3 linked regions of the Homo sapiens genome follow. The protein of the gene in region 3 purifies or fractionates together with the protein of the main gene of each other region. This does not show direct contact. Each region holds a gene or a part of one and is shown on either strand. Other genes may lie near its edges.

Evidence for each region.
Region 1: the proteins of GAL3ST2 (region 3) and STX16 purify together in Homo sapiens (affinity purification with mass spectrometry; one large-scale study listed by BioGRID and IntAct). This does not show direct contact.
Region 2: the proteins of GAL3ST2 (region 3) and MANEA purify together in Homo sapiens (affinity purification with mass spectrometry; one large-scale study listed by BioGRID and IntAct). This does not show direct contact.

The regions. Positions count from the first base shown.
Region 1 is NC_000020.11:58,661,191-58,664,840, forward strand, and holds part of STX16 (syntaxin-16), read left to right. Parts: intron 1-3,650. UniProt on the Homo sapiens protein: SNARE involved in vesicular transport from the late endosomes to the trans-Golgi network.
Region 2 is NC_000006.12:95,605,015-95,608,664, forward strand, and holds part of MANEA (glycoprotein endo-alpha-1,2-mannosidase), read left to right. Parts: intron 1-733; coding exon 734-1,391; 3' UTR 1,392-3,650.
Region 3 is NC_000002.12:241,775,368-241,779,649, reverse strand, and holds the start of GAL3ST2 (galactose-3-O-sulfotransferase 2), read right to left. Parts: upstream 2,829-4,282; 5' UTR 2,695-2,828; coding exon 2,666-2,694; intron 1-2,665. UniProt on the Homo sapiens protein: Transfers a sulfate group to the hydroxyl group at C3 of non-reducing beta-galactosyl residues. Acts both on type 1 (Gal-beta-1,3-GlcNAc) and type 2 (Gal-beta-1,4-GlcNAc) chains with similar efficiency.

The sequences.
Region 1 (3,650 bases), on a different chromosome or scaffold from region 3:
AAATTATGGAACCACTTAGGTTGAAGAACCATTTGAATAATGTTCCAAGGAGGGGCACATAAGTGGTCATAATTACTTCGGGGTCTGCTGTCTGAACCGATTTCCAGTCTTTCCTACTTCCTTTTTCAGGCAGCAAGTTCCAGAAACTGGCTACTCACTGCATGAACTTGGCAGGCCCTTTTGCTTTTCTTATGTTTCACCTCTAAGGGCTTAAAAGGGAGTCTTCACGCTCTGTGATCAGAGGCCCTGCGTAGAGAGCACTATCTCCTCCACGCTCACCCCAGTGCTATTAGAAATGCAGGTTGCTGCCTCATCGTGGGTGCCCACGGCCACCTCATTTCCTTGTGCGTTTCACTTGCCTCTTTTGCTCTTTTGTGCAGTGCCGTTATCTTTTTCATGAAGTGTGGCTTCCACAATTGTCTGTGACGTACATTTTATTTACCTCGTGCATTCATTCCACTCGTTTCTTGTCGGATCACTCAGCTGGTTGTGATTGTGCGTTCAGGACTCTGAAGTGCCAGGTACTGGCCTAGGAGCAGGGGGTGTGGTTGGGGACAGTGTCCAGAGGCTTCTTTGAAGCTGACGCAGGGCCTCACATTGGCATCTCTGGAAATAGTGAACACCCAGCTCCAGAGTGGATTAGATGTTAGCCACCCCTTTATAGGGGAGGCCTGAGCAAATGTCCCTGAGTGAATATCACTTGCATCTCCCAGAGTAAAGGCATCTGACGGCCTCACTTCAGAGGCTTCCTGCAGTCTGTCCATGTTTGATTGTCATTCTCCTCCTCTAGCCTGAGTACCCTGGAGATGTCACTTTTCCTTCTCAGAAAACACTAAGTAAGGTGTTCCCTGAGGAGGACCCGAGCCCACCATTGGTTCTCTTACCCAGGGAAGTGTCTGGCCCTCTCCTTTGTTCTCTGTCTTTAATCTACTTCCTGTCTTATGACAAAGAAATCTCTGGGAGTTTTTAAACTCAAGAATTATTTTAAAAGTCACAAGATAACAAATGTCAAGCCCCCAAACCACACTGCCTGGAGGACTGCACATCTGGGAGTGCCTGGGCCGGGCCCCAGTGTCCATGTTGGTGAAATAGGGAGCGGCGCTCCTCTGAAGGATTGTTCTTGGGACTGGCATGGGCCAGGTCAGTAGCAGTGCTCAGTACAGTGCTCACAGAAGGCAGGGAGGGACGGATTGCTCCCCTCCTTTTTCTTCCCCTCAGAGTATGTATGTTAGTTGAGAAAAAAGGAAAATCAGTGAAACTTAACAACAGTATCAGGGTGATGTGATTCTCAAGTGTTTTTATCTCTATATTTTTTGTATCATTTATTTTTATTTTTTTGAGACAGAGTCTCACTCTGTTGCCCAGGCTAGAGTGCAGTGGCGCGATCTCGGCTCACTGCAACCTCTGCCTCCCCAGTTCAAGCGATTCTCCTGCCTCAGCCTCCTGAGTAGCTGGGACTACAGGTGCGTGCCACCATGCGTGGCTATTTTATTTATTTATTTATTTTTGTATTTTTTAGTAGAGACGGAGTTTTGACATGTTGCTCAGGCTGGTCTCGAACTCCTGAGCTCAAGTGATCCGCCTGCCTTGGCCTCCCAAGTGCTAGGATTACAGGCGTGAGCCACTGCGTCATCCTATGCCATTTTAAAAGTATTTATTTTGACCATTTACTAATTTCATAATTAGAAAAGGTAAGCATTATTTTAAAATTATTACGGGTTTAGAAAAATGTAGTGCTGACATCACTTTTTTCTTTTATCCACATGCTTATTCACTTCTCCAACAACTCGGATTTCTTAAGCCTAATTGTCTATTAGCGAAGTAGTCTGACTTCATCATACAGGCTCCCAGAGTTTCACGTGGAAGTGTGAGTTGCCAGTCTGTTGATTTTCAGTGTCCCTTCTGGGCTTTCCAAGTGTTCATTGCCATAGACAGTCCAGAATTATCGGTATTGTTCTCATTACCAATGCGTTACGGCTAAACTTAGTTGATTTTTTTAGATGGGGAGGAGGTGTAGCTGACTTTTCCAATCTCCACAGAGGCTTTGCTATTTCTGTAATCTTAGTCTACACTAAATCAGCCTTCAGGGAAAGGCAGGGTTTTTAAGAGTAGGAGGGCCATAGATTTGGAACAGCAAGATTTATAAGAGAGAATGTGTATGTTCTTTCCATAGATGGAGAACTTGTCCATACTGGCTGGTACTCTTTAAATGGACAAATGTCAACATTTGAAGTGGATCAAAGGCAAAAGATACCTTTAGTGAGACTGGCAGGAAAGCCATTGGGTGTGCTGTTTTGAACATCTGTTGGATTTTTTCTGCATTTCTCTCAGGAAGGATGGCTCTAGGTTAGGGTAGCGGACCCCAGTAGTTCTTGGAGAGAGGAACTACATATCAAAGAGGCAAGAATTCTTAATTCTCTTAAGTACAATTTTTATTTAAAAAATATGGATTTTTTTTTTTTTACTTCAGAAGCACAAATTTATTTATTTATTTATGTATTGAGATGGAGTCTCGCTCTGTCTTAATAAAAGGCTGGAGCACATTGGCACGATCTTGGCTCACTGCAACTTCTGCCTTCCGGGTTCAAGTGATTCTCCTGCCTCAGCTTCCCGAGTAGCTGGGATTACAGGTGCATGCCACCATGCCCGGCTAATTTTTGTATTTTCAGTAGAGACGGGGTTTCACCGTGCTGGCTAGGCTGGTCTTGAACTCCCGACCTCAGGCAATCCGCCTGCCTCAGCCTCCCAAAGTGCTGGGATTACCGGCGTGAGCCACCATGGCCAGCTGCACAAACCAACATCATATATTTGGAGGGGGCACCATGTTGAAATTCAGTAAGGGTAAGGAGAGAGAATTAGAAACCTGGCCATTTTTTAAGATCTGTATGAAATAGGATGGCAGCTTGAAAATTGATACATATGCTGGATCTTCAACAATAAGAAGACATGTTTTTAAATGGAAAGTGAGGTTTCTGAAATTAAAAGGGTGCTTATGTTGCACATAAAATTTGTTTATGTCCATATTTGTTCCCATTTCAAATAGTTGACGCTTATCTTCAACAATTGTTTTCCCTTCCCAAAACATACTGTCTTGTTTTTTAATAGTACATACTGTGATACACATTACAAATCCATACTGCTAAAAGAAATGACACATTTCTTCTCAATAGGGTGGTGTTTCTTTATTATAATGAACTATAGCTATAGACTGTATCATAAAAGAGACAAATTATTCGCTATTTAAAGTTTTCATTCCCAAAGAATCAGCTGTTCTATCTTACTGGCAAAACTCTGATACAATGTGTGGGAAAGCTAGTACCAGCTGAGCAGGCTGGCATCCATGCTGTTCATGTAGGAATCTCTAATTAGCAAGCTTCCTTAGGACCCTTAACAAAGAGTGTGTTCTCCCCACTTTTGATTTACATCTAATTTGAGGGGAACACATGCATAAAATCAAGTACTGCTTCAAAGAGTTGTATTCACTTCAACCGACTTTTCATATGTGGTTTATAATTTGTTGTTTTGGATAAAATGATACTAATCCCAATGCAGGTAAATTTAGATAGATACCATCTCTCTGTCTTCTTTAGTTTAATGTGTATTTGTAAACAGTAAAAACAGTACAAAATAAGATCATGAGCTTAAAAACT
Region 2 (3,650 bases), on a different chromosome or scaffold from region 3:
TTTTTAATAAAATTAAATTGTTATTGTAATGAATGTCACCATCATTTCGAAGAACATTGCTGAAGTTTCTTATAATTCACTTTCTTTTTGGAAGATTGCTGTTTTTACTGTTTTACAGGTTTATAGGCTATTTATGATTTCTGTAGTTTTGATATTTTAAAATGACATTATTTTCTAAACCTTCAGAATATAGCTTTATCTTTTTAAAAAGAAGGTTCAGATTATTAAAAGTGAACTACTTCTTTTAACACAGTAGACCCAGAGCTGATATTTTCATTTATATCTAGCCTGATCAAAAAGAATTTATTAATACAGTTTTCATTTTTTGAAAGAATTTTACTGATAATAGTCTGTGACAGATGCCATAGTCTTACAAAGAAACTTGTCAGCAACAGTAGAACATTTATCACTGATAGATAAAAAAGCAGTTTAGGTATTATGTAGAGTATTATTTATAATGTAGAGACATAGGCTTTTTATGGCATTAGTCATCATTTGTAAACCTCAATATGAGATGGTTAATACTTGTTTGGTAATGCATCCAGTATCTCATTTTCTAATGTGTAAAATTAAAAATGCATTTTTAATTATTACACTTACACAACTGATTCCCCTAAGAAATGGAGCAGTGTGCTCAAACTGCACTGACTCCTTCATTTTCAGTAAACAGTTTTTGTCTGTGGCAAATTAGTTGTGAATATTCATTTCACTTTTATATATGCTTATTTTCTAGATATGGAAATCATCCGGCCTTTTACAGGTACAAGACGAAGACTGGCAATGCTCTTCCTATGTTTTATGTCTATGATTCCTATATTACCAAGCCTGAAAAATGGGCCAATCTGTTAACCACCTCAGGGTCTCGGAGTATTCGCAATTCTCCTTATGATGGACTGTTTATTGCCCTTCTGGTAGAAGAAAAACATAAGTATGATATTCTTCAAAGTGGTTTTGATGGAATTTACACATATTTTGCCACAAATGGCTTTACTTATGGCTCATCACATCAGAATTGGGCTAGCCTAAAATTATTTTGTGATAAATACAACTTAATATTTATCCCAAGTGTGGGCCCAGGATACATAGATACCAGCATCCGTCCATGGAACACGCAAAACACTCGGAACCGAATCAATGGGAAGTATTATGAAATTGGTCTGAGTGCCGCACTTCAGACACGCCCCAGCTTAATTTCTATCACCTCTTTTAATGAGTGGCATGAAGGAACTCAGATTGAAAAAGCTGTTCCCAAAAGAACCAGTAATACAGTGTACCTAGATTACCGTCCTCATAAACCAGGTCTTTACCTAGAACTGACTCGCAAGTGGTCTGAAAAATACAGTAAGGAAAGAGCAACTTATGCATTAGATCGCCAGCTGCCTGTTTCTTAATGCATTGATTAAAGTTTAATAGTTATCAAAATCACCTAATTTTTAAAAATAGCTTTCGTTTTGAGTTCTGGAAAGAAAACTGTCAAAATCAGTATATACTATTAGTTATATTTAAAAATATTTTTTTAAATTCTTTACAGATAATATTATACTTGTTACCCTTCACAATACCACATGAGAAAATATCTGAGACAAAATGTATACAAATATATTCCTTATGGCATAATTTATTGCATTTCTGACTGAAATCAAAATTCTGATTTGATGGCAATTGAATTTTCATTTTACAATAGATAAATGCTTGTGCTACCTAAAGCACTTAGCACACAGTTAAATTATATTTACATCCTAGACCCAAATAAATAGGATTGTGTGTATATTTGGGATATCTATTGAAGAAAAAAAGAAAACCCCTTAAAGATAATGTACATGCTTCATGTCATGTCTTTAAAATAATTTAATCAACTTTATTGTCTTAGTATTTAGACTCTGGATAACTCTACAATAATGAGGAAATTCTTAAGAATAACAAAATCACTGTACCTTCCTCTCAATTTTGCTGTGAACCTGAAATGGCTTTAAATTAATACTCTTATTTTTTATTTAATTTAATTACATAAATTAAACCTTACCATGACCAAATTGTGTTAGGACGGCCTGCTATCTACAGCACAGTGTGTCATTTGCAGATTTGTGGTTACCTATACCACGCTAGGTGTTTTGACATGTTTAGTGTTTCTGCTTTACAGTGCTGAATTCCATATTTTAGAAGCTATGAAAGTCCTTTTATGAAAAAGTTACTGATTGCTTCTCAGTTATTAGGAAAACAGTTGTTTCACAATTATTATGTAGATATGATGCCCAAATATCATTTTTAGTATATCTTGTCGATCTTTAAGTTGTTACTATTGTGTTATTCATGTCTTTAAATCAGATACCAAATATTTTTTAGGAAAGAAAAATGTTATTACTGTCATTAGGTTGTCTTTTAATACTTTAAGTTATTTTGACGAAAAGTAATAGAGAAAATTTACTTAGCATTTTAGATTCTAGAGACATGGAAATGAAAATTATTTTATGTCTAGAGTAGGTCCTGAAGTTTGGCTTTACATTAAGTTTAGCACTGTATCAGAATGAAGAAACTAATATTTTACATAAAAACTAATACTTTCAATTTTTTATATAGTAATATCCCCATTTTGTAAATGTTAGACTTTTATCATACCTGTAAGTTAAAATACTTGTTATCAATAACTTGTCATGTTGTGACAAATTGATCACTTGTGTACGAAAAATAAATCTCCTTAAAAACTAAATAAAATGCACTGTATTCTTACAGTTAATGTTTATAACTATAGTAAAAAATTAATATATATCCTATTACATAAATGTTATTTCTTAGGTGTTCCATTAAGAAGAGCAATAGAATAATGCTAAAAAATAATGCCTATAAATCTTCAGAGTATAAAGACATCCATTCAGAAACAAAAATTAGCACTAAATTTTTTATAAAATAGACCAGATGACAAAATTTATTTTATTTTTAAACAGTGGTTTTGACACAAATTATGTTATTGAAAAGCATTATTAATGTTTAATTTATTTAAAATTTTGGAATTTGCCATTTCTCAGAGAATGATCAGGCCTTAGGAAATTAATACAGTAGTAGTAATCATTTTCTAGGGGAAAATAAAAGAATAAATCACTATACTGATATTTTGATACAAGCAAGCACTTACATGGTAATCACTATATAGATCCAACCTGTGGATTTTCTTCTTATGTCCATTTAACTAGAATATATTATTTTAGGTATAATTTACAAATGTCACACCTAATAATCTTTTATAATATACCATATTTCATTAAAGTTTTGTTAGAGAAGTATCTACCACAGAGGAGTTTTTGTCATTGTGTACGTTGTGTATTTGAACCCACCATGACAGAAAGTAAATTTTAGGAAATAGTTATGAGATTAAGGGAAAATCTATAAAAACAAGGTTAGCATATTCTCAACACAGATACCACCACTTTCTTTTTCCCATTATAGACATGGTGAATCCACACAGCATACTTCATCTCTGAGCTTTGTTGTGATTCCTCAACACATTACCCTAACCAGCCAGCAGTAACAGATTTCAGAGTAAGATAAAGCAGATTCTGTCTTCATTGCAAAAAGTTATTCTCAATGGAAGAATGGCATCTGATCTCATAATTACTAGTTTATATTAATATAGTTTTTTTCTCCCTTTTTAATAA
Region 3 (4,282 bases):
CCTGTATCGATTTTCCAGGATTGCTCTTTTCTTTGTTGTTGTTTTTCTCCTTCCTTCTCCTATTTTGTCTTCCTAGGACTTGACACTTCACAACCTGCTAAAAAATGAACTTCCCAGGGCCGGGCACGGTGGCTCACGCCTGTAATCCCAGCACTTTGGGAGGCCAAGGCCGGCGGATCACGAGGTCAGGAGATGGAGACCATCCTGGCTAACACGGTGAAACCCCATCTCTACTAAAAATACAAAAAATTAGCTGGGCGAGGTGGCGGGCGCCTGTAGTCCCAGCTACTCGGGAGGCTGAGGCGGGAGAATGGCGTGAACCCGGGAGGCGGAGCTTGCAGTGAGCCGAGATCGCTCCACTGCACTCCAGACTGGGAGAGAGAGCGAGACTCCGTCTCAAAAAAAAAAAAAAAAAAAAAAAAAAAAAAAAAAAAATGAGCTTTCCTAGTAACTCAGGACCTGCCCGTCTAGAAATAAACTATCCTAGCCATGAGAGATAAGACAAAACCTGGGACCAGAGACTCATTTTCTTCTAAAATCTTGGAGAGCTTTCTCCAAGATTTTAAAGAGAAAATGGGGGGAAATGTGAAAGGAAAAGATCTTGAGCCCCCAGATCACTACAAGCTAAAGGGAGGAGTCTAGCTGGGAACTGCTCAGGGCAAACCTGCCCCCCATTGTATTCAAAGTCTCCCCTCTGCTCACTGAGATAAATGCGTATCTGACTGCCTCCTTTGGAGAGGCTCATCAGAAACTCAAAAGAATGCAACCATTTGTCTCTTACCTGCCTGTGACCTGGAAGTCCCCTCCCCACTTGGAGTCTTCCTGCCTTTGCTTCGAGCCGTCCTGCCTCTCCAGACCGAACCAATGTTCGTCCTGCATATGCGGACTGATGTCTCATGTCTCCCTACAATGTATAAAGCCAGACTGTGCCCTGACCACCTTGGGCACACGTCATCAGGACCTCCTGAGGCTGGGTCATGGGTGCACGTCCTCACCCTTGGCAAAGTAAGCTTTCTAAATTAACCGAGACCTGTCTCAGATTTTGGGGGTTCACACCGGCATGGTGACCCCCATGGGCTCTGTACCACATCTTCTCTGATCATGAGTCCCCTCCTCCCCAAAGATACCTGGCCACACCCCAGGGAGGCAACACCCCCAAGTGCCATAGCTCAGAGTTTTGTGCCTGAATCATCACCAGCAAAACAAAAGATCAGCAAGCATCCAAGTGAGCACTTTGCCCGGCGGCCTGGATTTCCCGTGGCCGGTGGTCAAGACTAGGCCTCACTAGCGCAGGCAAAGTCTCTCCTCTGTTCTGGGCAGCTCCTTGAATCACCCAGGTGGGTGCCAGTGGCACCACACACTACCGTCCCCTTTGTCCCCAGGGCTGTTGATTTGTTCCACCCACAGGCCAAGCAAGCTGACACAAGCGAGGTGAGCCTCCCACACTTGCCCAACCCCAGGAAAATAAATGCGAGGCTCAGGAAGGCTGCTGTCCAGGGCTGTGGGGAAGTGACTCGGGGCTTCCCTCCTGCAGGCCGTGCTCAATGAAGCCTGGGACACCCGGAGCCAAAGCTCCCTGGCCTTAGTGTGGGACGTGCAGCCTGCATGGGCTGCTGCAGTGAGCCCATCCTGCCAGGCAGTGAGACCAGCAGCTGAGGAGCCTGTGCCCTGGGCTCCCCGAGGGCCTTCGGCTGCAATGCCTCCCATGTCTCACCCACAGAGTCTCAGCTGGGGTCAGGCACACCCGCCCTGGCCGACCTCGGGGGGCCCCAGGGCAGCCAGGGGGGCCCTAGCTTGGCCACCAGCTAATCAAGTGAGCCTGATTCCCCAGCCCCTGGGCCTCTTCTTCACAATATGGTCACAATGTCCACAGGAGGGGGCATCTAGGATGGTCCAGGCCAGGCAGCCGGCCCCACACCTCTCAGCCCTGTGACGGGGTGTCCTCAGCCAGTGTCCTGGCAGCTGGTCTTAAGTCACCCCTTAAAGGAAGGTAACTGAATTCATGGCGGCACACGCCCCGGGGAGGCAGGGACCTGCCAGCGCAGGGACGGCTTCAAACTGCCCTGGAATCACCCCAAACAGGATGGCGAGCAGGAGAAGGAAAACGCAAGGCATCCTTAGCCACACCCACCACCCCTCCAAACCTAACTGGGAAGAAATCCACCTCCCCTCTGTTTACAGAAGGGAGACAGCACAGCAGAGCCCAGCCTCCCCGTCACCACCCAGAGCCCCGGGAGCATCCTGAAGCGCACGCATGACCAACGCTCCAGCAAGCGCCTGGCACTCCCACCAACACGGCCCAGCCATGGGCCTGAGCCGCAGACCGAGGCTGGGAGGTCCCAAGCCCAGCAGGTCTCACCCTCCCCAGCCGTCACGCGGACACTCGAGCGTCTCCACGCCACAGTGTTGGGGGGCAGCTTTCTCACTGGGCCCCACATCCCAGAACCCCCAAACACCCAGAAGCAGCACCAGGCCTGGGCAGGAGGGGCCCCCTACTTCCGAAACGAAGCCAAGACAGGTGAATTCAGGGAAGCCTGAGTAGGAACAGCCTCCAAATCCAAGTCACTTCCTTCGAAAGACAAACAAAACCCACTCCTGTCCGTCTCTCAGAATAGCCACAGATGAAGCGCTTTGTCCACCTGGGGGGTCCAACTGCCCCCCTTACCTCTGCAAGCCGCCCAGCATGGACATCATCTTGGCCTCTGGCCTCCAGCGAGGGGACAGTCGAGGCTTGAGCTCCCCCGAGGTCCCACCGCCTCGGCCCCTGCCGGCTCTGGGCTCCCCAGGGTGCAGGCACAGGCAGGGTGCGGCTGTGGGGCAGGTGAACTGGAATCCCCAGAAGCTCACCTGCCTCCTGGGACGGGAGCCACGCCCTCTCCCCGCACCTCCATCGGAGGGCTTGGTTTTAACTGTTCTGTTCTCGGGAAGAACTGGCTGAGGGAGTCTGGGGAGCCCTCGATGGGCCCCTGTGTTCCCCAGGCCCTGGGAGGACCTGCCTGGGGCCTACCCCTGCTCCCCTGCCCCACCCTCAGTGTCCATCCCCCCGGGGGGCTTGGAGGGAGCTGTCCCCACAAGGGACGGGCTTGGTGGGCTCCAACAGCACAGCGACGGCTTCTGGACTCAGAACTCAGGACCTGACGCAGACGAGAGGGCAGAGGGCCCTGTGGCCACTGCAAGGATGAGCGAGGAAAGCTCAGCCCAATTCCCAGCTTCCTCCCCCTCCTCGTCCTCCTCTTCTTCCTCCCCCTCCTCCTCCTCCTGAGCCTGCTTCACACCAAAAGAAAATCTGACTTTTTAAAATCTTGGGCTGGACAATAAGTTTGAAACAGGACATGGAGGTGGAAAATAAATATAAATATTTGTTTAGATTTTACTGCAAGAAAGTTCATTTCTCTTTTCAGGAAATAGATATTAATTCCGAGACAAGCAGCCAGGGAAATGCTGCAACATTGTGACCAGGCGCTACAGTGAATCCACAGGAAAACGCAAATGCTCCTCAGAGCTACGGGCCACGCGCCATGAGTCACCACCACCCTCGCCACATCCCACCAGCGCTGGTGCCCACCATGCCCTCCGACGCCAAGCTCTCCACACGGCTGGTCACCTTCCCACAACCCCTCCCTGTCGGTGCCAGCTGAGCCTGGATTCCGGGACTGGCCCCAGCCCAAGGCAGCCTCCCTGCCCTAGCCAGTGCCTGGCTCGGATGGGTGCAGGCCCCATAGCCATGGAGGCAGAAACAAGGCTGGGCTGAGGGGCTCAGAGGAGGGGCCGAGCACACATGGACCTCCCTGGCATCAGAGACCCTGGGCTGGGCGGCTGCTGGCGAAAGGCCCAGAGACCCCCAGCCTCCCTTCCCCATTTACCTCCACCTGCAGCCCAGGGGCCTGGCATCTCCGCCCCCGCCTAGGCATCACCCTCCCAGCTGCTCTGTAGACCTCCAGAGCCCGAGTCTGTGGGAGGGGCCAGCAGAGCAGCTCCCGGTGCTAACGGCAGGTGGGAGGGATGCCGGGGCCTTGCTGGCACGGCTGGGCAGCTCTCCACCGGCGTGCCCTGCATCCTCCGCATTCCACTATCCAGAGACATCCGTGTGGGTGTTCACTCCACCATTAAGGAGCCTCCCTGCTGCTTCCTCCACCCACCCTGCCCAGGGCACCACAGGCTCAGCCTAGGAACAAAGAAGATGGCGCCTCATGGGTCCTTACCCCAGAATCACCTTGGCCGAGCCATGTGTTACAAACGGTGGGGCCGGTGGAGAGCAACCTGCCAGGGACACACGCCTGAG